Homo sapiens: one gene and its partners. The protein of the gene in region 3 interacts with the protein of the main gene of each other region in a biochemical or structural test. Each region holds a gene or a part of one and is shown on either strand. Other genes may lie near its edges. The genes, in order: SIAH2, VAMP2, SNCA and SIAH1.

The links.
Region 1: of the proteins of SNCA (region 3) and SIAH2, one has a biochemical effect on the other in vitro, tested with the Homo sapiens proteins (4 studies listed by BioGRID).
Region 2: the proteins of SNCA (region 3) and VAMP2 form a complex in vitro, tested with the Homo sapiens proteins (3 studies listed by BioGRID and IntAct).
Region 4: the proteins of SNCA (region 3) and SIAH1 form a complex in vitro, tested with the Homo sapiens proteins (3 studies listed by BioGRID, with this or other methods).

What each region holds. Positions count from the first base shown.
Region 1 is NC_000003.12:150,760,163-150,767,740, reverse strand, and holds the start of SIAH2 (E3 ubiquitin-protein ligase SIAH2), read left to right. Parts: upstream 1-4,571; 5' UTR 4,572-4,891; coding exon 4,892-5,308; intron 5,309-5,333; exon of another isoform or gene 5,334-5,404; intron 5,405-5,565; exon of another isoform or gene 5,566-5,804; intron 5,805-7,578. UniProt on the Homo sapiens protein: E3 ubiquitin-protein ligase that mediates ubiquitination and subsequent proteasomal degradation of target proteins.
Region 2 is NC_000017.11:8,159,926-8,167,118, forward strand, and holds the start of VAMP2 (vesicle-associated membrane protein 2), read right to left. Parts: upstream 3,024-7,193; 5' UTR 2,955-3,023; coding exon 2,953-2,954; intron 2,952-2,952; exon of another isoform or gene 2,527-2,951; coding exon of another isoform or gene 2,519-2,526; intron 2,445-2,518; coding exon 2,324-2,444; intron 1,842-2,323; coding exon 1,683-1,841; intron 1,600-1,682; coding exon 1,548-1,599; intron 947-1,547; coding exon 930-946; 3' UTR 1-929. UniProt on the Homo sapiens protein: Involved in the targeting and/or fusion of transport vesicles to their target membrane. Major SNARE protein of synaptic vesicles which mediates fusion of synaptic vesicles to release neurotransmitters.
Region 3 is NC_000004.12:89,834,139-89,841,014, forward strand, and holds the start of SNCA (alpha-synuclein), read right to left. Parts: upstream 3,024-6,876; 5' UTR 2,824-3,023; exon of another isoform or gene 2,605-2,823; intron 2,597-2,604; exon of another isoform or gene 2,263-2,596; intron 2,103-2,262; exon of another isoform or gene 1,989-2,102; intron 1,555-1,988; 5' UTR 1,530-1,554; coding exon 1,409-1,529; intron 1-1,408. UniProt on the Homo sapiens protein: Neuronal protein that plays several roles in synaptic activity such as regulation of synaptic vesicle trafficking and subsequent neurotransmitter release.
Region 4 is NC_000016.10:48,361,412-48,368,434, reverse strand, and holds part of SIAH1 (E3 ubiquitin-protein ligase SIAH1), read left to right. Parts: intron 1-2,547; exon of another isoform or gene 2,548-2,957; coding exon of another isoform or gene 2,958-3,048; intron 3,049-5,431; exon of another isoform or gene 5,432-6,004; coding exon of another isoform or gene 6,005-6,006; coding exon 6,007-6,855; coding exon of another isoform or gene 6,856-6,958; 3' UTR 6,959-7,023. Other genes in the region: LONP2 (lon protease homolog 2, peroxisomal), read right to left, coding at 6,839-6,958. UniProt on the Homo sapiens protein: E3 ubiquitin-protein ligase that mediates ubiquitination and subsequent proteasomal degradation of target proteins.

The DNA of each region.
Region 1 (7,578 bases), on a different chromosome or scaffold from region 3:
TCAGGATTACAGGAGGTGCTAAGGGTGTAGCCCTCATGGAGAGGGTTGGTATCCTTAGAAGAGTCCTGAGGGAGCTTCCTTCCTATCTCTGCTACGTAAGGACACAGTGAGAAGGCTGCCATCTACAAACCAGGAAGCAAGCCATCGCTAGACACCTGTGGCACCTTGACCTTGGTCTCCCCGTCCTCCACAACTGTGAGAAATAAATGTTTGTTATTTAAACCACCCAGTTTATGATATTTTATTATAGCAGCTCGAGCTAAGACAGCAAGCGAGAGGAACGGAGGGACAGTAAGACAGAATTCATAGTCTTTTTTAACCTAATCTCAGAAGTGACATTCTATCACTTTGACCATATTCTGTTCACTTAAAGCAGGATCAGCCCTCATTCACAGGAAAGGTGTTACATATTGGGCGACACCAGGAGGAGGGATCCCTGGGAGCCTTCTTAATGATGACTTCCTACAACTCTCTTGGCCTCTCTGTACCTGTTTTGTCATCTATAAAGATCTACCCTATAAAAGACATTGTGAGAATTAAGAGAATTAAAATATGTAAAGTACTTGGAACACTCCCTGGTACAGGGTGAGCACTAATTAGCTAAGTGTGGATACAAAAATAATGCAAATACATAGAACTGCTCTTAGTACACAGTGCTAAGTCCATGATGGTTGTTCAAAAAAATGCTTGAATTAGGAGTACTTGAGTATAGGAGTTTGAGGCCAGCCTCGGCAACACAGTGAGACCTCTTCTCTACAAAAACTAAAAAACTAGCAGGGCGTGATGGCACGTGCCTGTAGTCCCAGCTACTCAGGAGGATCCTTTGAGCCTGGGAGGTTGAGGCTGCAGTCAGCCATGATCCAGCCACTGCATTAAGCCTAGGTGACAGAGTGAGACCCTGTCTCAAAAAAAAAAAAAAAGATTTGAATTAAGAGACCTACAATTATTCAAAAGAAGTTTGAGCATTTGGAAATTACCCCAGAAACAGATGAAGTTAAAAGTTCCTACTATAATTACCAGGGGGCCTTACATCACCTCCAGATTTCCCACAAGCTTCCCCTGATGAGGAATTTCCATGCAGCAAGCTCCAATGCATACCTGAGTCATCTCTAAAAAGCCAACCACAATTTGCTCTGCAAATGCACATTTGCCTGATGGCAGAAGTTGCCTGATTTGCAAAACCACACAATTTGTAAGTTACAGAAAAAAGGGCAAGAGCTTGTCTGCCTAGCTGGAGCATTTCTCACTGTGCTCAGCAGTTTAGTGAAATTAGGAACTCACCTGTGAGGTGTTTTTTTTAAGACTCACCCTGCTATTTTAAGGAAAGAAAAGGCTACTCAGTACACCCCTAGTCTTTCAAGCTTAGCATAGAGCAGATGGGTTAAGGAGAGGTGTCCTGCTTGACATATGCAATCTGGGACTCAGTAGGTGGGCGAATGAGACCAACCTCTCATACAGTAGATGTGGTAAATGAGTCATGAATCAGGAGATAACAAAAGGCTGGACCCTGCTCCCCCAGACCACAAAGTCACTCACTAAACAGGCCAAGAAGCAGCAGCGACACTCCAAAGGGTAAATAAACCTCCCAACAACTCAACTCAGCACACATTTTGAGTACACGCTAAATTCGACCTCTGAGCGGACTGCCCGCTGGAAGAGGAGGCTCTAGCTCATAGTGCCCGGTATGCAAAGGTCACCTTTCTTTGTTTCAAAAGTCACCAAGGAAGGAGGAAGAAGAAAGGCGACTGGGAAGACCAGCCTGGTCATTGATGTGGCTCACATAGCAGACCTATCCACTCTCCCCCTGCCTACCTTCAGCAACTGCCCAGAGTTTTTTTGTTTTGCTTTTGTATTTTAATTACCCTGGTTGACTTAATCAGGTGTGCAATGATGTGAAGGAGGAAGAAAGAAGAAATTTCTCTATACCAGGGGAGGCATCTGCCAGGGTAAGAGTGGATGGGTTCGCTGTATTTTTAGAAAAATAAACCAAATTCTCTCTGCAGAGAATTGCTTTTCCTGTTATTTCTTTCAACACCTCCCAAACCAAATTGTTTTCTGAATGACCAGGGCCTATCTAGCTGGAACACTTAAAGCTCGTGTCAATGGGGCAAGGGTGAGGACTCCAGTCTCCTAATGAGAGCTAGTAAGAAGCCGTGGGGATGGAGGTCATCACACAGAGAGGCTAGAAGTGGAAGGAAAGAAAATGTGTTCCATTAATAAATTCCAAATGCTTTGATTTTAAATTAAGAATGAAAAATATTACATTTCCTCCAATAACAGTAAAACAGTAGGTGATTTTTGTGTTATCACTTATATTTTGTGTCATAAAAAGGTGAAAATGAAATAAATAGAACATGATTTAATTTTTCTCTCTAGACCAGCTAAGGAAAGAGTTTATGTAAAGTTTGCCCACAAAATTTAGTGCTTTATTATAGGCTGAACAACTGTTTTCTGACTCTGTTGAGTGTGCTAATCTTAACTGTTTAACAAGACTGTAAGTAGGAATCAGGCATAATTTAGAGGCATACAGACTAGTAGTTAAGAAGGGCTCCTAGCGTGTTCCCACATTCTCAGCTGTGTGATCTTGAGCAAAGTAACCTATGTCTCGGTTTCCTCAACTGTAAAATGGAGATAACAGTAGTATTCATCACAGAGAGTTATGATAAATACTTAAAACTATCCATGCCCAACATACAGTGGGCACTCAATTAACATTAGTTATTATTTTATGCTCCCTACCTATCCAAAAACTCAGGTTCAGCCATGTTACTAAAGAGCTTCCAAAAACCTACAAAACCTAGTGTTGTTGTGTGTTCTTAAAAAAACAAACAAAACCCTACAGTGGTTTACCCCTATCATTGAGGTAAATGTCTTATTAAGCCAGTTGAGGCTCCCCTTGTGCTAACGCCACACCCCTACACTCCCGTTATATCCCCTCCAAGTCCCAATGCAATCCCAGAATACATGCTTTCACTCTGTGCTTTTTAGCTCCTGCTATAATGCCTGCCCACCCCGTGGTATCTGAAATCCTTCTTCTCCCACGAGTGCTTGGTTATTGGGCCTTGCTCTCTTACTAGAATGTAAACTGCATGAGAACCATTCTCAGAGCTCCAACAGTAGCTGACACATGATAAATGCTCAGGAAACATTTACTGAACGATTGAATACACCTATTAAGTTTTTTCAAGATTTATACCAAATTCCATCAATTCCATGCATGTATTCTTTCTACAGAAGCCCTTTGTAAGATTAAACTTTATTTCTTCTGGGCTCTTACGCCATATTTCTTGGACAAATTGTATTCATTCATTTTAAACATCCACTAATATTTTTAAAAGATAAGAGCTAATGTTTAAACAGTGCTTATGATGGGCGAGGTTGTTTTAAAAGCTTGAAATATATTAAACTCATTTACTCCTCACTGCCCCACCTATAAGATAGGTATTTTTTTTTCCACTTTTACAGTTGGAGGGAACCATTTTTCACTCAGTCCTAACAGTTGGTCCTTACCTCTGTGTCTCCTATAAATTTCCGATTTCTACCTAAGGTAACCCTTTCCCCAATTCCGGAATCGTTGGCTCAAGCAAAGTCTGCAGAAAAACAATTTTAACTCGGAGCACACAGTTACATTTGGACATGCGGTTCACCCCGGGCAACCGTGCCCTCTAGCGCTTCTGCTGGGCGCGCAGGGTGGCCCTACGCCTCGCAACAAAGACTCGGACTTCGGCCGGCTCTCTACCAAGCGGACGCAGCGCCTTACACTGGAGTTTCACCCACTGTCTTCAGAGACCTCACGACCCAACCTACGTTTCTGACATTTCTAGATGATCTCGAACTCTTAGCCAACGCTGCCCATGAGCTCCCTCCTCGGCCTGCTATACGAGCCAGGGGCGCTCAATTCAACGAAGCTTCCTCCTGGTCCGCTGGGAAAGGAATAAAGGGAGCTTACATCCTCCCCACCGCCCCCCTCTTTACTCAACCCCACCGTTAACTGTACAAAACTAGGTCCTGTGCCCGCTGCAGACCCAACTCGAGCCCCTCGCCCTGCTCCCACCCAATGCTTCTCGTCCTGACTCCGAACACAGAACGCGGGTGGCCGCTTCGCCCTCTTCTCCTGCGTGCTGGTGACTCAGCCCTGAGAAGAGAAACCTCTCGGTTTTTTCCGACTAGTGCAGGGGCGCCCGCGCCCCGCCCCTGCCCGCCCGCGTCCGGTCCCACCCACCGTCCACGCTCCCGCCCCGCCTGAAGTTGCCTTTCTCGTTTGAGCTGAGGGACGCGTCAGCCAGGCACCCCGGGGTGTGGCCAGAGGACTTCGGCGACGCTTCCCCGAGAGTAGCCCCCCTCCTCAACCCAGAAAAGACAACCCCGCGGGGCTGCAGCGAGCCAGGCATGCTCACTGGCGCAGGCCCGGCCCGCAGCCCGAGCAGGAAGCGCCGGCGCTAGGCGGCCCCCTGCGCTGCCAGCTGGAGCCGGGCGGAGCCAGCGCCCCGGCGCAGGGTGGCTCTGCCAGTCCCCGCGCGCCTGGGCGGCCGCACACGTGTCCAGGCGTCACGTCCGCGCGCGCCCCCGGGGCTTGCGTCAGCGGCTGTTCCAGAAGCGGGTGGGCCAGGGCTCTGCGCACCGCTGGGGTTCGGGGCCCGGGACGCCGCCGGGAGGAGGGCACCGCGCGGGGTCCGACGCGGAGGCGTGCTCGGAACGCCGGGGGCTGCGGAGTGCATCAGCGCGGTCCAGCCCTCCGCCTGCCGGGCGCCGAGCGTCTCCGCCGCCCGGACCTGGGCTGGGCGCCGTGGCGTTGCCTCGGAGCTCGCTGCCCGCGGGGCGCGCACCGCCTTGACCCGGGCGGCCCCGCGGCAGGCAGGCGCCCGCAGTTCCATGGTTGGTTCGGAGCGCGATGAGCCGCCCGTCCTCCACCGGCCCCAGCGCTAATAAACCCTGCAGCAAGCAGCCGCCGCCGCAGCCCCAGCACACTCCGTCCCCGGCTGCGCCCCCGGCCGCCGCCACCATCTCGGCTGCGGGCCCCGGCTCGTCCGCGGTGCCCGCCGCGGCGGCGGTGATCTCGGGCCCCGGCGGCGGCGGCGGGGCCGGCCCGGTGTCCCCGCAGCACCACGAGCTGACCTCGCTCTTCGAGTGTCCGGTCTGCTTTGACTATGTCCTGCCTCCTATTCTGCAGTGCCAGGCCGGGCACCTGGTGTGTAACCAATGCCGCCAGAAGTTGAGCTGCTGCCCGACGTGCAGGGGCGCCCTGACGCCCAGCATCAGGAACCTGGCTATGGAGAAGGTGGCCTCGGCAGTCCTGTTTCCCTGTAAGGTAAGCCCAGGGACAGCCCACGTACCTCCGCCGGTGACCTCAGGGACTCCGGTATCCGCCAGCCCACTCGCAGGCCCGGAGAGGCGGGCGGCATCTCTCATTTAAAAAAAAAAAAGAAAAAATGTTTACACTTCGTCCACCCTCCCTCAAGCCCACTTTGGGTGTAGGTCTGGGTTGACATTTACCGAGTAATAATTGTTAATAGACAATTAACAGATTAATTGGCATTTGCTGATCGTTAGAACATCGTAGCTCACCCGGCCCAATGCCCGCGTCCTCTGCAGACGTGTATTCGGGTACTCTCGGTAGGGCTGGGCCGCACCAGTAAAACTTGGACCGAGAAACTGACTGTGTGGGGATTGAGGAGGGAGGAAACGGGCGAGCTAAACGCCCCCTTTACCAGCGCTGGGCTCGGCTGAATTGATAATTGGAGTCCTGCACCCCGCGCCTACCGTCTGCGCACCCCTGACACGTGGGAGCTCTCGGGATTGTAGCTAAAAAAAGGGCGCCTACAGCCTGTTTTCCTCTAGCTAGAAGAAAACCCTGCAAGCCACGCCTTTTTCTCTCCTAGCCTTCCAAAGACTGGGAAGGACTGAGGAGTTGTGGCTGCGTTGTTGTACTAAGTGGGGTGAAAACAGTCAATCAAGAAATTAACAAGGGCACTCAAGAGCTGTTGTTACAGTTGTTTAAAGCTCATCACTTCATTTTTTATTTAATGTAAAAAGTTTTCAATGCCCTTGCGAAAAATGCAAGCCACCAAGACAAGAAGTAAAATGAAAGACCAAGATCTCTCCCCTCCTTTCCCACCATTGTTAGGTTTAGTGTGTATCTTTTTAAACTATATATACATACACCCTCGCAGCTAAATATAGAATCATAGATGTCAGTGTATGTCAGGGAGGTTTTTTAATACCCACACATAGATGTAAGTTTTTCTCCAAAAATGGCATCTGCAACTTGCTGTTCTTAAATTCATATTATCACACATATTTCTCTATGCCTGAAACCTAGTCGACTTCATTGTATTTTAAATGGCTGCATAGTATTGCATTGTGTGGTCATATTATAACATTTGTTTACCTGCAGCTATTACGTGGAAACCTTCAGGAGCAGTTTCACAGACATACTTGTCTACGTTATAACCTAGAAGTATACTGTAAAGTCATTTTCTGAAATTAGAAGTGGAGATAATGTCACTAATACTTTCCAGTTTTTTTGTAAAAGTAACTTGCGCTGCCTCTTGGGCCATTTAAGCTGTCTTGCATTTCTCCTTGGTGCTGCTTATTTTATAGGACAAGAGCTCATTTTTAAATTAAAAATAATCCACCAGAGAATTCAGGCTTGGGACTCAGGTCAGTAAAATGAGTGCTTTAATTTGGTCTGCTGCCCTGCTGCAAATCAGGTTTAAAATAGCATATTTAAATAAGAGTTTGAATCGGTGTTTGGACTAGGGTGTTTCAGGCAACCTTAATAAATTGCTGTTAACCCCTCCTCATATAGTGCTTACTAATTCACTCAGCCCAGTTTCTCAAAATTTAGATAAAGTATTTGCATAGTTGTCTTAGGGTTGTGAAAAAGGTGACAACCTAGTGGTTGGAAAAGGTTTGGTGGTAGTTAACATAGAGTGGCTATTTGATGCTTGAGATATATTGCAGGGGTGGGGGATGCCCCATAGGATTTCTGGGGAGCCATTTTCTCACCCCTTTACTTTCCCTTAAACGCGCAGCGGCTAACAAAAGAAATGGCTTTTAGGTGAGTTTTAGTTCACAAATGAGCATTTGATATTAGTCAGTAATCCATAATTTGTTTTTAAAATGTAACCATAATAGAATTGTGTTGTTCCCAAGAGAAAGGGAAGGAAACAGTTATGCTATATGGAGCATGAAGTTTCACTTTCAGGATCTAGAACTCTGGTTCCTATGAAAGCATACGTTCTTTCCTAACGTGAAACAGGCTACTGAAATCAACCTTGAAGAGTAGTTCTGGGAATCAGGGGTTCTCAGCCTTTCTGTACATGTCAGTGGTTTTCTGAGTCTCTATTCTATAAGAATGCAGTGGGGTAAAGCTATTACTTTGCAAGCTGAAATTTAAAAGGGCCAATTATTCCCCTGCAGACCAAGAACCAAGCTTAGGATGTGATCTTGGGGATGCTTTTGTGTGTGCATGTGTGTGAGTTGTATAAAGCTGGGGTGTGTGTCCCTCACCTTTGGTTGATCAATAATCCAAACTATTGGCAGGGCAGCTCAGCCAGTTAGTCTGGATAAACCAAA
Region 2 (7,193 bases), on a different chromosome or scaffold from region 3:
TGGCAGAATTATTGGTCCATCATAACATACTGAACTTCAAGACACTTACATACCAGCTGGGGGAGGGAGAGGAGGGTACAAGAGGTTTGGAAAATGAGGGTAAGGGAGGCAAACTGGACTAGAGGGGCTAGGAGGAGGCAATGCTGGGGACCAGAGCAGCCTGGTTCCCCAAAAGCCCAGGCTCCCCACCACCTGCGAGTAATGTCGTGCAAATGAAAATGTGATACAAGAACTAATGGGGACTAACTCCTCAGTAAAAAAAGAAACACAGGTTGAGAGAAGAGTGATGGAACAAAAAGAAATGGAAAGGGATAGCAGTATGTAATGATACGCTAATTAACATGCTGGACGCTCCCAAAGACCTTGGGATTCTTAGGACCAAGTGGGGCCAGTCTCAGAGCCTCCCAATGGATACAAAGAAGATGTACCTAAGGAAGCCTGGACAGGTGCTGTTGTTTTTTTTTTTTTTTTTTTTTTTTTGAGGGCGGGGCAGAGGGAGCATGACGGGGAGAGTGAGGAGGAAAGAGGAAAGGAAGGCCAGGGTGGGAGGAAGGATCAGCTAAATCTGAGGGAAGAAGAAGGAAAGGAGAGGGACTATTGCATAGCAGATGCAAATGAAGGGACTTGGGGCTAGTCAGGAAGAAAGGGAAAGGGAAGGAAGGCAAGAGAGAGGGGTGAAGGGAACCTCAGGAAGGGGTGTTAAGGACAACCGGAAAAATCATCTAGTAATAAAACTACAAACAGACCAAATATATATAATATTATATATGTATAAATAACAGCTGGCTATTTACAGGGGGACACACACACGGACACACACACACACGGATCCAGGGGAGTGGGGGCTGAAAGATATGGCTGAGAGGTGGAGGAACGGCTGAGGGTTGGGGGAGAGGCCCTTCTCTAGGCAGGGCAGACTCCTCGGGGATTTAAGTGCTGAAGTAAACTGTGGAGAGAGGGGAAGAAGATGAGGAAGAGGGAGAGGGGAGAGAAAGAGAGAGAACAAGAAAGCAGTGTGTCAGGCCTGGCCCTGCTCCAATCCTCCCCACTCCCCAGCTGGCTGACACCCTCTCTTGGACTCAGTTTTTCCATCTACAAAGCAAGGGGCTAGACAGGTAGGTTCTGAGGTCCCTTCCGCTCCATGGTATGGCCTTGAAGCCACAGACCCTAATCCTCTGAGCCTCTGAGACCGCAAGCTCTCAAATAATGGGGTGGTTGGCTTCCTGGTCATGTCTCAAGCCCCTGGTCCTTTCCTTTCTCCCACTCCTCAATTCCAGGGTTCTCAGACTGGGCTCTTAGGCCTAAAGGGTCCTCAATGGATACACCAGCTTTCCTATTTCCAAATGTTAACAAGACTGCCAAGAACTAGGCAAAATGCAGGCTAAATAACATCAAAGTTTTTGGCTCTAGATGAATCAGAATTGCCATTAGCAGCTATATGTGTTTTTGGCTGAAGAGTAAAAACTAGATTAATGACCTTCAAAACCTAGAATCCACTGGGGAAACCTCTCCAGGGAAAGGGCCCCGGCCATTCTCACCCTACTCACCTATGATGATGATGAGGATGATGGCGCAAATCACTCCCAAGATGATCATCATCTGGGGGTGAGAGGCGAGGATCAGTAAGACAAACTATGATACCCCATTCACCCACCTGTCCTCCTTCCTGTCCCCACCCTTACCTTGAGGTTTTTCCACCAGTATTTGCGCTTGAGCTTGGCTGCGCTTGTTTCAAACTGGGAGGCCCCCGCCTGGAGTGCATCTGCACGGTCGTCCAGCTCCGACAGCTTCTGGTCTCGCTCCAGGACCTTGTCCACGTTCACCCTCATGATGTCCACCACCTGGGAGAAGGGCCCACGAGGCAGGGGGGTGTGCCAAGGCCCACCTCAGTGAGGGCAATCCTCAAACATGTGCCCACCGTGCCACACATGGAACATGCACCCTGATACTGCCAGGTTAACATGCCAAGGACACACAGAACATGCCTAGCACACCTGGGGACATGCAAGGAGCACACATCAGGGGCATGCTGGTGACATCTCAGATGTCATAGCAACACCCTCCCTCTATGGAACCTCAGGCGCTCTGTCCATCACCAGAGCACACCTGCCCAGGCTGGCACACCCCAGGCTAGCAAAGCTGATTAACACCCCCAGCGCCCTTCCAAGTGCGTGCTGACAGGGAGACAGGGATGGGGCATGGTATCTTTGTCCGCAAACCCACAGGCGTGAACTGTCATCACTCCCAAACCAACATGGGCCCCTACACCTATACGCCAACCCCCAGGGTCCCTCCTACTGCTTTTGACTCCCCCCACACTCACCTCATCCACCTGGGCCTGGGTCTGCTGCAGTCTCCTGTTACTGGTGAGGTTTGGAGGGGGTGCAGGGGGACCACCCTCCCCAGCCGGGGCAGCAGGGGGGGCCGTGGCAGCGGTAGCAGACCTGAGGAGCAGGGACGGATTAAGACCCAGGGCCTGCAGCCTCCCGGCCCCGCAGCCAGGGCTCCGCCCATCCACCTGTCCATCCTCGTCCCTCCAGTCCTCCTTTTCGGGAGGAAGGCCACCCGATGTAAGCCCTGGTCTCGGTCCAGCCCTGCCGCCGATGAGCTGCGTGACCTTGAGCGAGGCCCCCCCGGCCTCAGTTTCCCCGCCTGTCAACTGAGGGCGACCTCACAGATGCGATCCGGGTCGACCCGAAAAGACAGGCGGCCGCGGTGACAGGGGCGGGGAGGGGCAGGAGGACACTGGGTCCGCTCCTTCCCGCGGCCATCGCCCGAGCCGGCCAGCCCGGGACGCGGGGCTCCTCGGCCGCCCGCGCGCAGTCACCGGCTTGGGCCTGGCCCCGGGGCGCGGGGAACGCAGGAGAGACCCCGGGCACTCCCGACGGCCGGTTGCCAAGGGCGGCGGCCGGCGCAGGGAAGCGCGGTGAGGGTGGCGGGCGGCCGACTCACATGGCGGGGGCAGCGGGTGGAGGACTTGGCAGCGGCAGTGATGGCGGCGGCGGCTCGCGCTGGCTCCGACTGGCGCTGGCTGCCCGGGACGGAAAGATGGCGGCCGCGCGTCACCCGCATCCGGGCACTGCGGGCGGGGGCGGGGCGCCGCGGGAGACGCGTCGCGAGCGGGGCCGCGGGGGCGGGGCGCTGCGGGGCGCTGCGGGGCGGGGGTCGTGCCGGGCAGGACCACGGGCCCCGCGCCACCATGCCCCGGCAGCTCCCTCGGCACTCGCGGGACCCCAAGGCGGGCTGCTGCGGCTTCCCCAAACCCACCGCCACCCCACCCTGTCTGACCACAGCCCCCCCAAACCGCCTGCCGCCTGCCCCTTAGAGCACAACGCAGCCTGGCCCTACACCTAACCCCCAGACCACTCCCTCAATCGTGAACCCAGTAAACCAGCCTGCACCCCACACAGCCCAAGGTCTTGCCCCGCGCCCAGGTCCCAGCACCTAGCGACCCGCCTTCAGCACTTGGAATGGGCTGGAGTTGGGAAATCAGAGAGGGCCAGTGCAGGTGCTGGGGCAGTATCGAGAGCGGGGACCTTACTGCTAGGGTGGAGAGGAGTGGGGGAGATTGGTCCCAACCCATCACCGCTGGTGGATGTCTCAGAGGAAGCCTGGGGTCCCTGGCCACTGGGTAGGAGGGTAGGAAGAAAAGATGAGGCAGGCTCTTCCCGCCCAAACAAGTCCAGGGGGCGGAGGACGGGGGAGTGTCTACAGGGTGTGGGGAGGGGGCTGCCCCGCCTCACGATTAAGGTTCAGACTAGGGGTACTTAACCGCTGGAGCAGGCCCGACTGAGGTGGGGTGAGCTGAGGACCCCGAGGAGGAGGGCACAAGGCTGCCGGGGGTGATGGGGGCAGGGGCTGCTTCACGTGGTGGCTGCTGACTGGCCAAGACCTAGCTTTGCCCCAGGCTTAGGTCAGCGACCCGACTGCAGGAAAGGGCTCAGGCTTTGGTCCCAGGCACAGGGCCTGGGCCAAAAAAAAAAAAAAAGCCTTTTTTCTTTTTCTCTCATTTTTTTTTCTTTAGTAGTAGGCACAGTGGGCACAGGTTACAAGGTGCTGCTTTACATGCGTATTCGCCTCGCAGGTGTGACCTTGGACCGTTGCCCTCCTCTCTCTGGACCCCAAATACATTGCATATGTAGGTACTAAATCCATATTTGTTAAATGGCTTGATGTGGATAACATAGGAGATTATCCCTGGCTGGTCTCCATTAGGCCCTCTAAGCACACCCAGCAGCTGTATACACTCCCACCCAGCTTGTCAGAGAAGATGGGACCAGGGGAGCTGTCGCTCTGGTGGAGTGCAGGGGGTCAAAGCAAGCCTCAAGGGTGCAGGAGGCATTTTAGGCGAGGCCCTTTGGCCCTGGGGTGGGGGTGCTTACTACATCCCTGGAAGGTGCAGGGAGGCTGATGGCCTTGATCTCTAAGACAAACAGGAACCAGCTTCCTCCCTCCCCCACCCTGGCTTCCCAGGGCCTCCGGGTGTGAGATCCTCCCCCACTGCAGTGCCCCACCCGCTCCCCACAGAAGCCCGGAGAGTGGCTCTGTCACCAGAGGTGTCATTTCCCAGCTGTCTGTGGGAGGTGAGTGAGCAGGGAATGTGTGTGCTGGGTGTGGGAACTCAGCCCAATCTAAGAGAAGATACTCTTGGCTTCCTCCCCCTCAGAGGAGCAGCCGCGTCCCTGGTCCTTGTGCACTGACAGTCCCGGGTGGCTCAGCCTATGTGATGAGAAAGAAAAGAGCAGCTTCCACGGGGGTCTCAGATCATGCTGTGAGATGCTGGCTCCTGCTTTTTGGTCTTCAAATGATTCCTCTTTCTAGTCAGAGAACAAAGATGCCAAATTCCAGCCTTTTAAGTTCAAAACCCTCAGTGTCTGTCAGGGTATAAATAAGACATGGAGGATTGGAAGAGGCAGGCACAGGAAGCCCTTCCGCCCCCAGTTGGACACCCTGCACTAACTGAGGGGAGCCTAGTGCAGAGCCAGACAAGACATTTGATGCTGGTTTGGGGGTGATGTGGAAGGGACAGAGCCCCAGATACACGGTCAAGGCCAGGGGTCGTGCTATTGCTATTGGATCGTGGGGACGGCAGCAGCAGAGTAGAAATGAGGGCATGTGTGACCCACGGAGATGAAGGGCCCAGGAGGATTCATCTCAGAAAGAGGACTCTCATCCAGCAGCCCCTTCCCACCCCACCCCACCTAGGCTGTGGCTCAGAGGAACTCCCCAAATTTAGATCAATGGTGGAGGTGGGAGAAGGAGTGGGATGACGGAGTTCACCTGGAAGTGACTGAGAGAATGTTTTCTGCAGGCAGGTAGAATGGAGACCCAAATAGAGGTAAGTTGAACAATAGAAAAATAATGTATTTGCATAACTCAGATTTGGCTTCTACATGTACTGGCTTCGGGAATTGGCCAATGATTTTCTAGGGCACACCCCCAAGACTCATTCAAAGGATGTAGGACTCAAGGTGATGGTGATGTAGGCAACAGAGACCACACTTTCTTTTTCTTTTTTTTTTCTTTTTTTTTCTTTTTTGAGACAGAGTCTCTGTCTGTCACCCAGGCTGGAGTGCAATGGCGCGATCTCTGCTCACTGCAAACTCCGCCTCCCAGGTTCACGCCATTCTCCTCCCTCAGCCTCCCGAGTAGCTGGGACTACAGGCGCCCACCACCCGGCCCGGCTAATTTTTTGTATTTTTAGTAGAGACAGGGTTTCACCGTGTTAGCCAGGGTGGTCTTGATCTCCTGACCCCGTGATCCGCCCGCCTTGGCCTTCCGAAGTGCTGAGATTACAGGCTTGAGCCACCGCGCCTGGCCGAGACCACACTTTCATAAACGCTTTCTTTTATTTTTTATTTTTATTATTATTTATTTATTTATATTTAAGATGGAGTTTCGCTCTTCTTGCCCAGGCTGGAGTGCAATGGTGCGATCTCGGCTCACTGCAACCTCCACCTCCCGGGTTCAAGTGATTCTCCTGCCTCAGACTCCCAAGTGGCTGGGATTACAGGAGTGCACCACCACGCCCGGCTAATCGTTTTGTACTTTTAGTAGAGACGGGATTTCACCATGTTGGCCAGGCTGGTCTCGAACTCCTGACCTCAGGTGACCCACCCACCGTGGCCTCCCAAAGTGCTGGGATTACAGGCGTGAGCCACCATGCCCGGCCTTATTTCGTAATTTTTTTTTCTCTTCAGACAATTACTGGTTTAGAAGTCGGCCGGGGCTGCAGTGCAGTGGCGTGATCTCGGCTCACTGCAACCTCTGCCTCCTGGGTTCAAGAGATTCTCCTGCCTCAGGCTCCCGAGTCCCTGGGATTACAGGCGTCCGCCACCATGCCTGGCTAATTTTTCTATTTTTAGTAAAGACAGGGTTGCGCCATGTTGGCCAGGCTGGTCTCAAACTCCTGACTTCAGGTGATCTGCCCACTTTGGCCTCCCGAAGTTCTGGGATTACAGGTGTGAGCCACTGTGCCCGGCCTTTTTAATTATTTTTTTTGAGGCAGTCTCCCTCTGTCACCCAAGCTGGAGTGCAGTGGCACAAGCTTGGCTCACTACAACCTCTGCTAATTTTTCTGTTTTTAGTAGAGACAGGGTTACGCCATGTTGGCCAGGCTGGTCTCAAACTCCTGACTTCAGGTGATCTGCCGACCTTGGCCTCCTGAAGTGTTGGGATTACAGGCGTGAGCCAATGCACCCGGTCAAGAAGGTGTCTCTTTTTGTATTAAAGCATAATGTAAACACATAAAGTGGTATCTTTTTAATATGTGAAGTTCTCTCTGAACAAGTACCAAGCACAGTGCCAGGAACGAGGCAGGCAAATGAATAATAAACTATGGTGAGTGCATAGCAGGCAGACAGACTGCTAACGGGAAGGATGTGTTTGGGCAGGACCTTTGTGCCCAGTATTCTGTAAGGACAGTCCTAGTTGGGCTGGCGAAGCACTGATCACTTTTTACTGGTTCGACCAGGGAACCAGCCAGCAGAGCAGGCCCAGGCCCCTGGCCACTGGGAAGCAGGGCAGTGTGGGTGGTGGGGGTGCCACATGCCAGAGCCCTGTATGGGTGGGAGAAGACATAGGCAGATCAGAATCTCCTGGGATTGGGTGCGTGAAAGGACTCCTGGTTCCGGTCCCTCACTCTCCAACCCTCCATTCATTAGAGATTCACTGGGTTTAACAAGCTCCTGTTG
Region 3 (6,876 bases):
CATAAAATATTTAAAATTAACTCATCAATTTTTTCCTCTTGTAACACCCTATTTCAATGACTTTCTGAAAATATGTTTTAAGGTAGAAAAAAAGTAATTTAATTGAAGATTTGTGGGAAGATTAAGTCAACATAAGAAAAGTCTAAATAATGAGGCAGTGGCACATGCCTATAATCCTGGCTACTCAGGAGGCTGAGGTGGGGGCATGACTTGAGCCCAGGAATTCAAGGATGCAGTGAGCTATGATAGCATCACTGCAGTCCAGCCTGGGCGACAGAGCAAGGCCCTGACTCTAAAAACTGAAAATAAAAAACTGAAAAAAAAATGTGTTGTGAACTTTGATGAGATGCATTCATATAAATCATCCCAAGTATAAAATTTCCCCCACTGATCTATGTTGAAGAGATAGTGTAGCTTTCTTTCACTTTGCAGACATAGACGGAGCACATGTTTCAGCTAGGCAACTCAATGTGGTCATCCTCCACCTGACTGTTCATCCTGTGACTCTTACTGCTATAGTTGCCACCAGAGAATGTGAAAAAGCTCAGAGGAGAAAGAAGAGAGGAAGAATGGGCAATGTGTCTGTGTTGAGTGTGTGTGTCTATGCCTGTGGATGAGAGTGTGTGTCTATTCTTTTCCAAGGAATTCAAAGTGGTTTGTAAAATAACACTCAATTGAATACAGTTCAAGTTACAGAAAAGAGAGTCAGAGTTTGGGTGTATACCCCAAGGTGGAACTTTAGGAACAAGTAGGTAATAAGCATCAATTTCTTTATTCTTTTAGTATGTGTGTCATTTGATGGATGAACTATACAAATGTTTCTGAGAGATTAGTAGCAGCCCTCAAGCACTTTTCTCTGTCCTCAGTGTTCACAGAGACCAAATGATCACATGAAGTAACTCTATCAAAGACTAATCTGTTCTTTCCATTTTAGGGCCACAAATAGGTCTCTTTATACACATCACAGGGGCATATCAAAGTCATATTTTAAAAATCAGAATGGATTAAAATTGACAAACATTTTTCATGATGGTAAAAGAAATCACAGATCCATCAATGATTTTGATTCTTAAGAATATTCTTGATTATTTTTTAAAAGACTATGAGTTTTTAAAACTGTTCTCTGAAATAGAATTATGTAGGTACAGAAACATTCATTTTTAAAAAGTCATAAATATTAGGGCAAAATTAAAAATCTGGAAAAGCAAACAGTCGCATTTTTTACTATTAGCTCAAATACACACGTTCACATTCACCTACCTACACATACCTCTGACTCAGTCCACCTTTTTGACAAGCAATGATGCAAAAATGAATCAAGAGAGAGAACTACCAGCATTTAGAGTATTGATTATCCTAACCCATCACTCATGAACAAGCACCAAACTGACATTTGGGGTTTACCTACCTACATAGAGAACACCCTCTTTTGTCTTTCCTGCTGCTTCTGCCACACCCTGTTTGGTTTTCTCAGCAGCAGCCACAACTCCCTCCTTGGCCTTTGAAAGTCCTTTCATGAATACATCCATGGCTAATGAATTCCTTTACACCACACTGGAAAACATAAAATACACTTTGAATGAGAACTTTCGGGGAAAAATAAACAAAAAACACTGAAAAATCATGAGAAACCCTCCAAAGTGTGAGACTCTTTTAAGTGTACACTCATTTAACCATTGGACAAAGCAGACATTTTTAGCTCTGGCATTAAAAATTTAGCATCTCCCATCCATCTTGGCTAGTAAAAGTCTAGCCACCTAACCACGGATTAGGATGAATCCTCTGAGTTGTTATTACTGCATTTCAGAAGTGGAGTTGCATGAAAAGATTAACCCCTTTTTTAAATTCCCGGGGTCTAAAGGGTAACAGTATGAGTTAGAAGCATGGAAGCTGGAGGCTTAGGGTCAGGGGTATCCTTAACATGAATCCCAGAAGAAGGCTAACAGGTTGATGGTGGAAAGGCGTAGGCAACAGAACTAACTGCTCACTCGGGGTGTGGTTCAAACTCAGGCAAACAGCAGGCCCAAGTGTGATGGTTCTAATCCATCCAACATCCACCCCCGCCCTCAGCTATCTACCCTGAGCAGGCGCCGCTCACACTCGCGGGCCGTCTCCAACCCCGCGCCAGCCACCCGAGGGGGCGTTCTCAGCCTCCACCCTAGCGGACCCCGCGCCAGCACTTGTTAACCCGTTACCACCTGTTGACTTGGCCTCCTTGCACTTCCATTTCATTATTTGCCAAACGCAGCTTGCTTACTTTACAGAGAAAAACCAAGAGAGCGGGCAGACAGATTTTATGTGAGAGAAAAGTTGGATGCTCACGCTCCATGGAGCATCCTCGCGTTTCCCGGGGAAAAGCGGATCCCGGAGAAGCAGCCTAATCTCTCAGCCCTTGTGGAGAAGGGAATATCAGAAGCAGGACGAAAGCCAGGTCAAGTCTCTTTCCTTAGGCTCCCCAAAGGGACAAGTACTCACCTCCCAGAGACCTGGCCCAGCGGGTCCTCATGGCAGCACCACCCCCTCCCGGTGCCCACGACCATTCGTCTCCCATCCGGCGTTCTCCAGGATTTCCAAAGACGCCCGTTTAGATCCACAGGTACTTACCTGAGTCCCTCTGCTTCTCCACAACTCCGACTCCTCCCCGCCTCTCTCTTTTTTTAAAAAAAAAATTTAAACAATTCCCAAATAATATTTAATAGGAAAGAAGAAGGAAAAGGAGCGCACAGGAAGGGCGGAGGCGGCACCCGGGGGGGACTGTCCCCAGAGGAGGCCGCTGTGAGCCGGCGACGCGAGGCTGGGGGAGTGGGAGGCAAACCCGCTAACCTGTCGTCGAATGGCCACTCCCAGTTCTCCGCTCACGAGGGTGGAAAGGCAGAAGGCTTGAAGGCAAGGCGTGAGGGAGCGCCCAGGACGCTCTCGGAGGGGCCGGGCCGGGGTCTGCGCTGCAGCCCGCACGCACCTCACTTCCGCGTCGCGGCGCTCGGTCGCTCGCCCCCTCTCTTGGGCCCCTTCTGGTCGTCGCCGTCCTCCTCCTCCTAGTCCTCCTCCTTCTCCTTCTCCTCGGCTCTCCGCCCCCACCGCTGATTTGTCAGCGCTTCTGCCCGCCCCTCTCCCGGCGCTCGCTGCTTTCCCTGCAGCGTGCTCCTCGTCCCTATCTCGGATGGGGATGGGGCAGGGGGCGCGGGGTGAGCCATCAACTCCAGCCGCCTGCCTGGCCGCGCAAGGCGGGAAAGTGGGGGCGCTTTTGCGCCTCACGTTAAGTTTAGGGTCACGAGCACTCTTGTGGAGATCGGGAGCGGTTGGGCTAGGGATGATGCCTCTTCCTCTTTCCCCTTCCCCTCCCTTCTTGTCCCCGCCTTTCCTCTGGGTCCTCCCGGGGACCACCCCCTACCCCTCGTCAGAGTCGCCCTGGGAGAGCCGAGGGCCTGAGGGTCGACCACCAAGGGCAGAGCCTATCCCTTGGGGAGCTGCTGGAGGAGACAGGCAGCGCCGGGAGGTGGCTCACACCGCACCGCCGAGAGCGCTTTGCCCTCGCATCGCTGAAATTTAATCACGGTCACAGGTTACAACGTTAGGGGTCGCTTTAGTTCAAATATCTTCAAGGTTTTCGTTTGCTCTTAATCTAGGAAGAGCCGGAAAGGGTCCTGAGGGTGAAAGGGAGACTACTAAGGAAGAGTCACAGGTTGAGGAGGCAGGAGAAGGCTCAGCAAATCCTCTTTCCACGCCACTATCACCATTTTCCTTTCCACCAATCAGCGCCTGCCAGACGCTGATTTTCCCATCAGTGGAACAAGGAATAAATATTCCCCAGCCGTCTAAAACAAGCGGTCCTAAGGCTTTTCGCTCTAGAAATGGGACTTACTTTGCAGACCTCCCTTTATCTGGGAGACAAATCCAGCGTGATTTAGCCTACCGGACCATCATATCCAATTTCTTCTTCAGCCCCTTCTGAAAGGGAGATGCTACACACCACTCACCTTTCTGACTTCTGATTCTCGTTGCCCTCAGAATTGACACCCCCTTTTCTCTCCCCCCACCCACCACACGCACATGCACACAGACATACACACGCGAACTTCAAGACAATTTTTGCATCGCTTAACACATTTTCACCTCTTTCAGAGCTGGAAGACAGCTGTTCCTGGATCACACCAGAATGGAGAAGCAAGCTCCTCCCACTAGCAGAAAGCCTTTGCTTTCTGTGCCTGGATTCGGAAGATTAGTTAAGCACTGGAAGAGGAGGGGGGAAACAACAACTCGTTTTTGCTGTATGTTTTTTTTTTAATTGTTTTTATATTTATAGAAAGTTATGCTTTGTCTGATTCTTGCGCTAATTTGGGTTCTGAAATTTGAGTAAAATCAAATTTAAACATACAAAACAACTTTAAAACCACAAGGAACAGGAAGCAAATGATTATACATAAAAGACATATAGAAGATAATGCATATGTGTTCAGTGGAAAATAGAAAAGCATGAAAGTAAGATCACAAATATTTATTATTTAAACTCTTCCTTGAACTATTGGTCTGCCCTTTGGAAAAGCAGACTTTCCTTAATGCAGTAGCTCATATTAATATTTTTTGTTTGCTTAGGACCAGAGCAAGAAGGTTGGACTTGGGAGCTAGTTTGCTGTCTGGCTTTGAGACCTTGAACAAGTTTTGTTCTCCTTCTGTTTCCAGTTTTCTTTTTTGTAAATTAGGAGATTAACTCATGTGATCACTCTATTTTCAACTTTTTGTTATGGGAAATATTCAAACATATGCAAAAGTAGACAGAATAAAGGACTCTCATGTGAAGATCATCCAACTTTTACATTTTTTCAATGCATGGCTGATCATGTCTCATCCATAAGTCCACTCACTTTATCACTACCAATCCTCCCTCTTTTTTTTTTTTTTTTACCAAATTCAAGCTTTATATATATCTTTTCAGCTGTAAACATTCAGTATGCATCCACAAAATTTAAGGACTGTTTAAAAATAACCACAATATCATTAGATGATTCTTTAAAATTGCAGTGTAATTTACACCTAGGGAAATGCTCAGATGTTGTGTCCCTTTAAATCAGTTTTGAAAAAGCCATGCATTAGTGTAACCCACACTATTTTGAAGACACAGGACATTTTCATCATTCCAGACAGTTACCTTGTACCTTCATGTGCATATTCTAGAATGTCATAAAGATCTAATCACGTAGTATAAACTTTGTTTTATATTTGTCTGACTTCTTTTACTCAGTATAATATTTGTGAGGTTCGTTCATGTCGTTGCATGAATGGGTGTTTTGTTTTTTATTGCTTTTTGTTGTTTCTTTTTACTACTGTTAATAGTATAAGTTTTCCATTGTGCCTCTTTACAACTAGTATCTCAATAGAGTATTACAACAATTATTTAATATATTATTTCACATGACATATTTATAGTATAACCATGACCTCCTTGAGACCTAGTGCTTTAAGTCAAAGAGGTAAATAAAATGAGATATTTTAGGTCTCATTACAACAGACCAATGTGAGAGAATTATTTCTGGACAGTTGCACTTCTTATAAACGTTTAACATGATTCCAAACTTTTATTTGGTAATTTGTTAGTCCTTTGGCAAAGGACTAATGTACTATGTTATTTAGTCATAACAAGCAGATCAATTACATTTTATGTAACTTTTATAGACAGAGAAACTGAGCTCCAAGAGTTTTGGTGATATGCTGAGATCACCTAGCTATTTTAAGTGGCAGAGCTGAGACAATTTAGCAGAAACTGTTACAGAAGGCACAATTGTCTCCTGAATTAGCAGTTTGTGTCTGAAGCCTCACAGATTGGGTGTGGTAAAGAGTGAGAAGGAAAAAGGTAGAACCCAGCTGTGTTAGAAATAGCCTTCAAATTTGGATGTGACAATGGAAATCAAGAAGAACTTATGTTATTATGAAACAGTTCATTCATATTTAAAGTTTTGCCTTTTCTATATTGGTATTCCTCAATAGGGGGAGATGATTTCTTACTACCTACAAAAAAAGAAAACTGTAAACTAATTTCGTTGTCATTTTGAATTACAACTATATGTTTAACTCTTGTCACTCCTTAAAATGCCTTGAACACAGTAAACATCCAATGAACTTTTAATTACACATAATATTGATAGTGATATTGCATATGTTCTAGGTCTGTATTCTTAAGGAGGGAAAGCTGCTCAAGTACAAAGAAGGGAACTAGAAGTTAAAATAAAGTTTTTTTAATTTTTCTTTTCATTATTGATGGACAGCATGGTCTTCAGTAAATCTTTAGCCTCTCTGAATATAACGTTAAACTAATTGAATGGCTTGTACCTCATAAGAAATATGAAGTTATGAAGTAATAACATATTTGGAAGCATTACTAACATGCATATTCTGTTCATAACTACAATATTCATGTTTTGTTTTCTCTTTGCTAAGTGAAATATAAATATTTTACCAGACCATAATAGGATTCTTTTATCTGGATTTAATTCATTAATTTTGCTATAGATTAACATTCTATGAAATATATGCTTAACCTAGACTTTGTTTACCCCCATAGAACAACTGAATTTTTAGGTATGGTATGTGGTAAACTTGTGCTATAGCAAAGACAGCAGAGTAGAATGGCATGAAAATAAAGATGCTGCCCATTAACAATTGATTAAAGAGAGGACTGATTTAATGTGTTTAAGTTAAGAAAATACAACGTTTATTATCTTTGGATAATATTCCGTATTTGTTGTGAACACAAGGGGTGATGTAATGTTGATGCTGGAGCCACCTGCTTCTTATTCTCTATCTGCACCTTCCTCTCACCTTCTGTAAACCTGTGAGAGAGACGAGGTAGTGAGATTGCGATAGGCTTCTTGTGTAATTTCA
Region 4 (7,023 bases), on a different chromosome or scaffold from region 3:
CGTGAGCCACCACGCCCAGCTGTTTTTTGTTGTTGTTGTTTTTTACTAAATTAAGAATAAACATGTTTTACTTTTTGCTCATTTTGACTGTTTTCACAGTTGTTAATCAGACTAATCTTTATAAAGCAGTTTATTGTCCCCTTTGGAGAAAATACAGCTAAAAATCACCAGTATCCTCATATAGGTAACTGATTCATTGGTCTGATGTTGTAGCCCTCTTGGTTTCTCACCCCGTCCCTCACGTCTGTGTTCTATTTGTAACTTCATTTACAATATATTATGATTTTTTTCCATATCTGACTACATTTCTCCATTTTAAACTTTTATAAGTAATTTATAAAAGGAAACAAAGATTACCACGTGGAATTGAGAATAAAAGTTTATCTTTCTACTGTTAAGTATGCTAAGGTGGTAAAGCAATGGCTGAATGCTCTGAAATTACTAAGACAACATTAAAGGCTGATTCTAAAATGTTTTTGTTTAGATTGACATCTACTTAAACTATATACCAAACTGGGCTTGGGACGTAGGCTTTAGAAAGTGTAGGTAATAGTGCATTCTTGCTAAGTTTTGGATTTTTGCCAGTTTTGGATTCTATGGGCTTGTCTTAAGGTACTTCTGTGAACTTTTCAGCTTTTTGTAAAACTAGTGTAAATATTCTACCTAGTTGAGAATTAAGGTTTATTGTGCTAAAAATTAAATGGTGGTTGATTCTTGGCAGACATGTTTGATCACCTTTGCAAGGTTAAGGCATCTTTTGGAGTGTGTTTCTTGGAATCTACAAATTCTGAGTCTGTGACTAATTGATGACTTGGCAATTAAATCAGGTCTCAGCTGAAAACTTAAATATTCTGGAATATGTACCATCCATGATACACATAAATTACCCATCTCAATCTAGACAAAAGCCAGTTGAGGCTGGAAACAGTCCAGTTTTACAGCTCAACAACTGGTGGAGCCGGGGTCTGAATCCAAGTGTAGATGACTCTAGAATGCTTCCACTTTTCTGACTTAATTAAGTAGAGGGGCCTGTCCATAGATCAGTGGTTTTCAGAGTGTGCTGTAAGGCTCTGTACAGATCTTTTGGAGTTTGGTAAACAGTGAAATATCTTTTGCTTGAGAAATAATCAGTCATCTTTTTGTTGTATACATTTTGGTTCTGTTTGGAAGAGTTTCTCTATATGAAATTTTCTTCTCTAGGGAAATTTAAGACCTGTCGAATGAAAAAATATTAGAAAATAAAAATATAGACTGGGCACAGTGGCTCAGCACTTTGGGAGGCCAAGGCAGGCTGATGGCTTTAGCCCAGGAGTTCGAGACCAGCCTGGGCAACATGGGGACTCCCTATCTTTACAAAGAAAATTAACGAGAGTGGTGGTGCCAGCCTGTGGTCTTAGCTACTGGGGAGATTGAGGTGGGAGGATTGCTCGAGCCCAGAAGACCGAGGCTGCGGTGAGTGGAGATTGTGCCACTGCACTCAGACCTGGGCAACAGAGTGAGACCCTGTCTCAAAAAAAAGGAAAAAAAGTAGTTGTGGGGCTGACTGTGTCTATTTTCAATTATATTTCTTTTCCTAATGCTGTTTTGTGTAGCCTGTATTGTAAAACGAGGTTGAGGTGATTGAACACACTTAATAGAGTGAGGAAGTGGTTAGAGTTAAAATTTCCTGCTGAAAGTGGGTAATCTGCAATTCCTTGCATTGGGTTCACTCCTCACTGCCAACTCTTGCTGCATTTTGAGGCTGCCCTAAGCATGATGTAATGACAGGTTAAACCTCTGCACGCACTAGCTGATGCAATGCAAATCTGAGGCGCAGGACTTTATTGGGGCAAGGGTAGTGCTTGTTTAAAAACAAAACAAGCTACTCTGCGTTTAATGAGGCCATTTAAGATGGCTTTCCCAGAGTGGGAAGAGAGTATAATCTCTTAGGAGGTTTAAGTAGGAGTTTAATGTGGCAGAAGTGTGCTTACTACTTTTCCTGCAAAGTCTTTTCACAGTGGGTAAGGAGAGTTTAAAATATAGTGCTGATAGGAGTAGAAATGAAGTGAGCTAGAATTGAGGAAATATGGTAGTTGATGCCCGGTAAATAGCCGTTGAATGAATTAGGGAGAATGTTTTCACTCTAAAAATTTAGAGTTCGCACGATAAACCTGGAGCGTAGCGCCAGTGTGGCCACGCATTTCCCAGATACGCTGTAGCTCTTAGATCGAAACCATAAGAAACTGCCGATATTCGACTGTTCTGACCTACCGAAAATAGCGTGGTTCCACCTAATTTTAAACTGGTGGAAATGCTGAGGAAGGTTCGATGTCGCTGGGGTGGGATGGGGTCAACGGCGGGGTGGCGGGGGCTCCCCCACGCCCCCGGCCTTTGGCTGGGGGGCGGGGCTTGCGGGCACGGCCCCACCCTTGCGCGAGCAAGACGGGCATCGCCCTGTGCGCCGCGCGCCCTGAACTGGCCCTGGCGCCCCGGGTTGGAGTAGGCGTTCCCAACGCAGGCCCAGCCCCGGCCGAGGCTCCAAATGGCTCTCCCGGCAGGCAGGCTCCTGCAGTAACTCTTGAGCTGGCTCAGGGAGCGCACTTCCTTCTCAGCCAGCGCGTCGCCCCCTGCATCCGTGGCCTCCACTGGAGCTGGGCAGGACCCTACCCAGTGAATCTGGAGAAAACAAACTTGGGAGACAGACGAAAGCTTAGGGCACATTGGAGGACAGCGCAGCTGTGGCTCCCATTTTTGGAGATGCAGTCGAATTTGAGCTCACAGGGAGGTGTGGTTGCCTCCTGGGGATGGAAAGGCTTCCTTTCTCCACCTCTGTAACTGGTGCTTCTGAGAAGTAAATGGTATTTGGATCCTGACCTCAGACGCGAATTTGGGTCTTCTGTGCTTAGGAGCAGAAAGAGCCCAGGAGGGGCCTGTTCCTTTACTTCTTGGGGGAAACGCAATGCGTGGCCTGACTTCTCATGACGGGAAAGGCTACTCCACCTTCTCTGTACTCCTGGAGGGGAGTCTTGTTCACATGTTTACCAGCGGCCAGGACAAGGAAGAGAAAAGGTATTGACATTAAGAGGATGGTTTGCTGAGGCTGTGAAACTTGAACGCTATTAGTCAGTGGAACCTGCCTGGCTTAGGGAATGGCTGCAGCAGAATCGAGACGTTTCCGAGGTTCTCAGTCATGTTTCATTTGGGCTGCTGTTCTTTTTTCTGTTTAAATCAAACTTCAGGTTACGTCATGACTTCTGCAGGGCTGTCCTTGGTTCCTACTGCAGGGCGCCTGTGTGGTTGGGATTCCTTTTCTGTTTCAAGATGGAGCTGGGTTCCACCCTTGGAGCTTTGAGAGGCTTTAGCAGTTGCTGTCCTGTAATACCTCCGTTCCCAAGAAATACCGTTCACATTTCGCTTCTTTTTCACACTTTGAATAGGAGTTAAAATGTGCTTTCTGTAGTGTTTGGAAAATGGCAAAGATATATTGTAATGTGAGCCCGAACTGTTGTTGATAAATGTATAACTATTGCTAGGTCAAGAAATTGTGAACAACAGTGTTTTGCTTGGTCCGTAGCTATATTGTGTTAAATATAAACTGAGTTTACTGCCCTTGGATGTGATTCTTTGGTTTGATTTAGTAATTTGAAAGGCATTGGTTGACTAGACTGTTTTTTGCCCAAGGAACCACTTTGTAATTGTTACGCTGCTTACTGAAGTAAACTGGACCATGCAGTAGGCATACAGCATACAGCCAGGGTGTTTTGGCAATGCTGAGCCCACTGTTTTACAAGTGACATAAAATGGATGTCATATGTACAAAGAATCTACTGAGAGGGAAACTGGATTACAGGAGAGCTCCCTTATAGTCCTTTGTCAGGGGACAGAATACCTGGGTCACACTGGGCTTCAGATTGAGAGTTGATTCATGTTCTGAGTCCATATGATGAGACACATTACGATGGAATTGTCACTTTTGTTGCCTCTGGAACTTTAAAATACCCGTTTAGTGACGTGGAATTAATCTTTATTTTTTCCGTCACCCTCAGCCCTCATTTAAGCTATCAGTTGGTAACCACTTGGGTAATCTAAACCTAAGTTGCATTTATTTGGTCACATTGGTAACCAACATTGCTTCTTAAAAGTTCCTTGCAACAGAATGACTATAATTGAGATAAAACATTAATTTTGAGGCTTTAATTTTGTAATATGGATTAGTGGCCGGGCGCAGTGGCTCATGCCTGTAATCCCAGCACTTTGGGAGGCCGAGGCGGGTGGATCACGAGGTCAGGAGTTCGAGACCAGCCATGGTGAAACCCCGTCTCTACTAAAAATACAAAAATTAGTCGGGCATGGTGGCGGGCCCCTGTAATCCCAGCTACTTGGGAGGCTGAGGCAGGAGAATTGCTTGAACCTGGGAGGCAGAGGTTGCAGTGAGCCGAGATCGCGCCATTGCACTCCAGCCTGGGCAACGAGCAAAACTCCATCTCAAAAAAAAAAAAAAAAAAAAAAAAAAAAGATTATGGCTTAGTAGAGTTACTAGGAGTGCAGTCTTAGGACATTGACTGATCTTTTTTTTCACCCCCAAGACAAATAGTGGCCTGCCATTTTCCAGCCCAGGTAGCTTCCTGGGAAAAGTTGCTTGTTTTATCTTTGACTCAGCCTGGCTAGTTACATTGTCGATTATTTCTTCCAGATGATATTTACCTGTTAAATAATGTTTATTACTCTGCTGATGAATGTTTTCAGCAACGCTGGAGAACCCTAGGCTGCAAGGGGTTCTTCACCTGTTGACTCCATCCCCCACCCCCAGTATGGCATATATCTCTGCCGTGCTATCATCTTTATTCTTTCCTTTTTCATTGTCTCTTCCTGACTGTCCTCCTTTGTTCATTATGTCTGACACATATTGTGGATTGAAAGTAGAACAGAAAGATATACTTTCTCTACCAGACTAAAAAGTTTTGAGATGGCCCTCCATTTCTCCCATGCCTCACTTCACCTTAGTTGTGTTTTTATTTATTTTTATATTTTCGCCACCTTCACTAGCGAGTACATCCCCTCACTCTTGAGGTGGGCACTGATCAGTAGGAAATAAGATTAATACCTGGCTGGTGATAATTTGGGGGGAAGACTTAATTAGATAGAGATGGATAATGGGATGGCAGCAGACCTTTCCCCTTGTGACCCTTCCCCTCATTTCCAAAATACACCTCTAGAGTAGATAATTGCTTACCATTAAGAAGAGTTAATGGAAGGTGATACTCTGATTCTTTGGCATTGGAACTACATTCAATCCGCGGTATCCTCGGATTAGTTCTAGGACCCCCTTCTCCATACCAAAACCTGAGGATGCTCAAGTCCCTGATAGAAAATGGTGTCATATTTGTATGTGCATATTCTCTTGTATAATTTAAGTGATCTCTGGATTACTTAATACAATGTAAACAATATGTAAATAGTTGTTATAGACTGTATTTTAAAAATTTTGTATTCTTTATAAATTTTTCTGAATATTTTCAATCCATGGCTGGTGAAGTCCTCGGATGCAGACCGTGTGGATACAGAGTGCCGATTTTATACAGGAGTTCACCTGTAACTCCCTGTACCTATCAACAGCTGACTCCAAATTAGAAAGAAATAGAGTAAGGGAGCCTCAGGGAGAGTCCTAGCAAAACGGATTCGATTAAACTTCAGTTCCTTGTATAGTTTCTTTAGTTGTTTATGGTCCATTTTCTATTTTAGCATTTATTATTCTATGTAGTCTATCCAAAGACGATTAAGGGAGTTCCACATGTTTTCCGGAACATTTTGAAAAGAGAGCTTATCCAGTGTACAGATCCTAATAAAGTGCACATTCAGTGTAATTTTATTTTTTTAATATCTTTTTTAATCCTATTTTTCTTCCTCTTTTGCTCAGTAAATTTTGTATGAAACTTTAAAAGGACTTATGGCATGTAAACATTATTTATAAAGTAAGTCATGGTTATAATTATTTTTCTCCTGCCTCCTTATGTATTTATTTCAGAAATGAGCCGTCAGACTGCTACAGCATTACCTACCGGTACCTCGAAGTGTCCACCATCCCAGAGGGTGCCTGCCCTGACTGGCACAACTGCATCCAACAATGACTTGGCGAGTCTTTTTGAGTGTCCAGTCTGCTTTGACTATGTGTTACCGCCCATTCTTCAATGTCAGAGTGGCCATCTTGTTTGTAGCAACTGTCGCCCAAAGCTCACATGTTGTCCAACTTGCCGGGGCCCTTTGGGATCCATTCGCAACTTGGCTATGGAGAAAGTGGCTAATTCAGTACTTTTCCCCTGTAAATATGCGTCTTCTGGATGTGAAATAACTCTGCCACACACAGAAAAAGCAGACCATGAAGAGCTCTGTGAGTTTAGGCCTTATTCCTGTCCGTGCCCTGGTGCTTCCTGTAAATGGCAAGGCTCTCTGGATGCTGTAATGCCCCATCTGATGCATCAGCATAAGTCCATTACAACCCTACAGGGAGAGGATATAGTTTTTCTTGCTACAGACATTAATCTTCCTGGTGCTGTTGACTGGGTGATGATGCAGTCCTGTTTTGGCTTTCACTTCATGTTAGTCTTAGAGAAACAGGAAAAATACGATGGTCACCAGCAGTTCTTCGCAATCGTACAGCTGATAGGAACACGCAAGCAAGCTGAAAATTTTGCTTACCGACTTGAGCTAAATGGTCATAGGCGACGATTGACTTGGGAAGCGACTCCTCGATCTATTCATGAAGGAATTGCAACAGCCATTATGAATAGCGACTGTCTAGTCTTTGACACCAGCATTGCACAGCTTTTTGCAGAAAATGGCAATTTAGGCATCAATGTAACTATTTCCATGTGTTGAAATGGCAATCAAACATTTTCTGGCCAGTGTTTAAAACTTCAGTTTCACAGAAAATAAGGCACCCATCTGTCTGCCAACCTAAAACTCTTTCGGTAGGTGGAAGCTAGACACATGAAGGTAAATAAAAAGAAAGGCTGTTAAATACAGGAAACAGTTGCATGTAGTAAC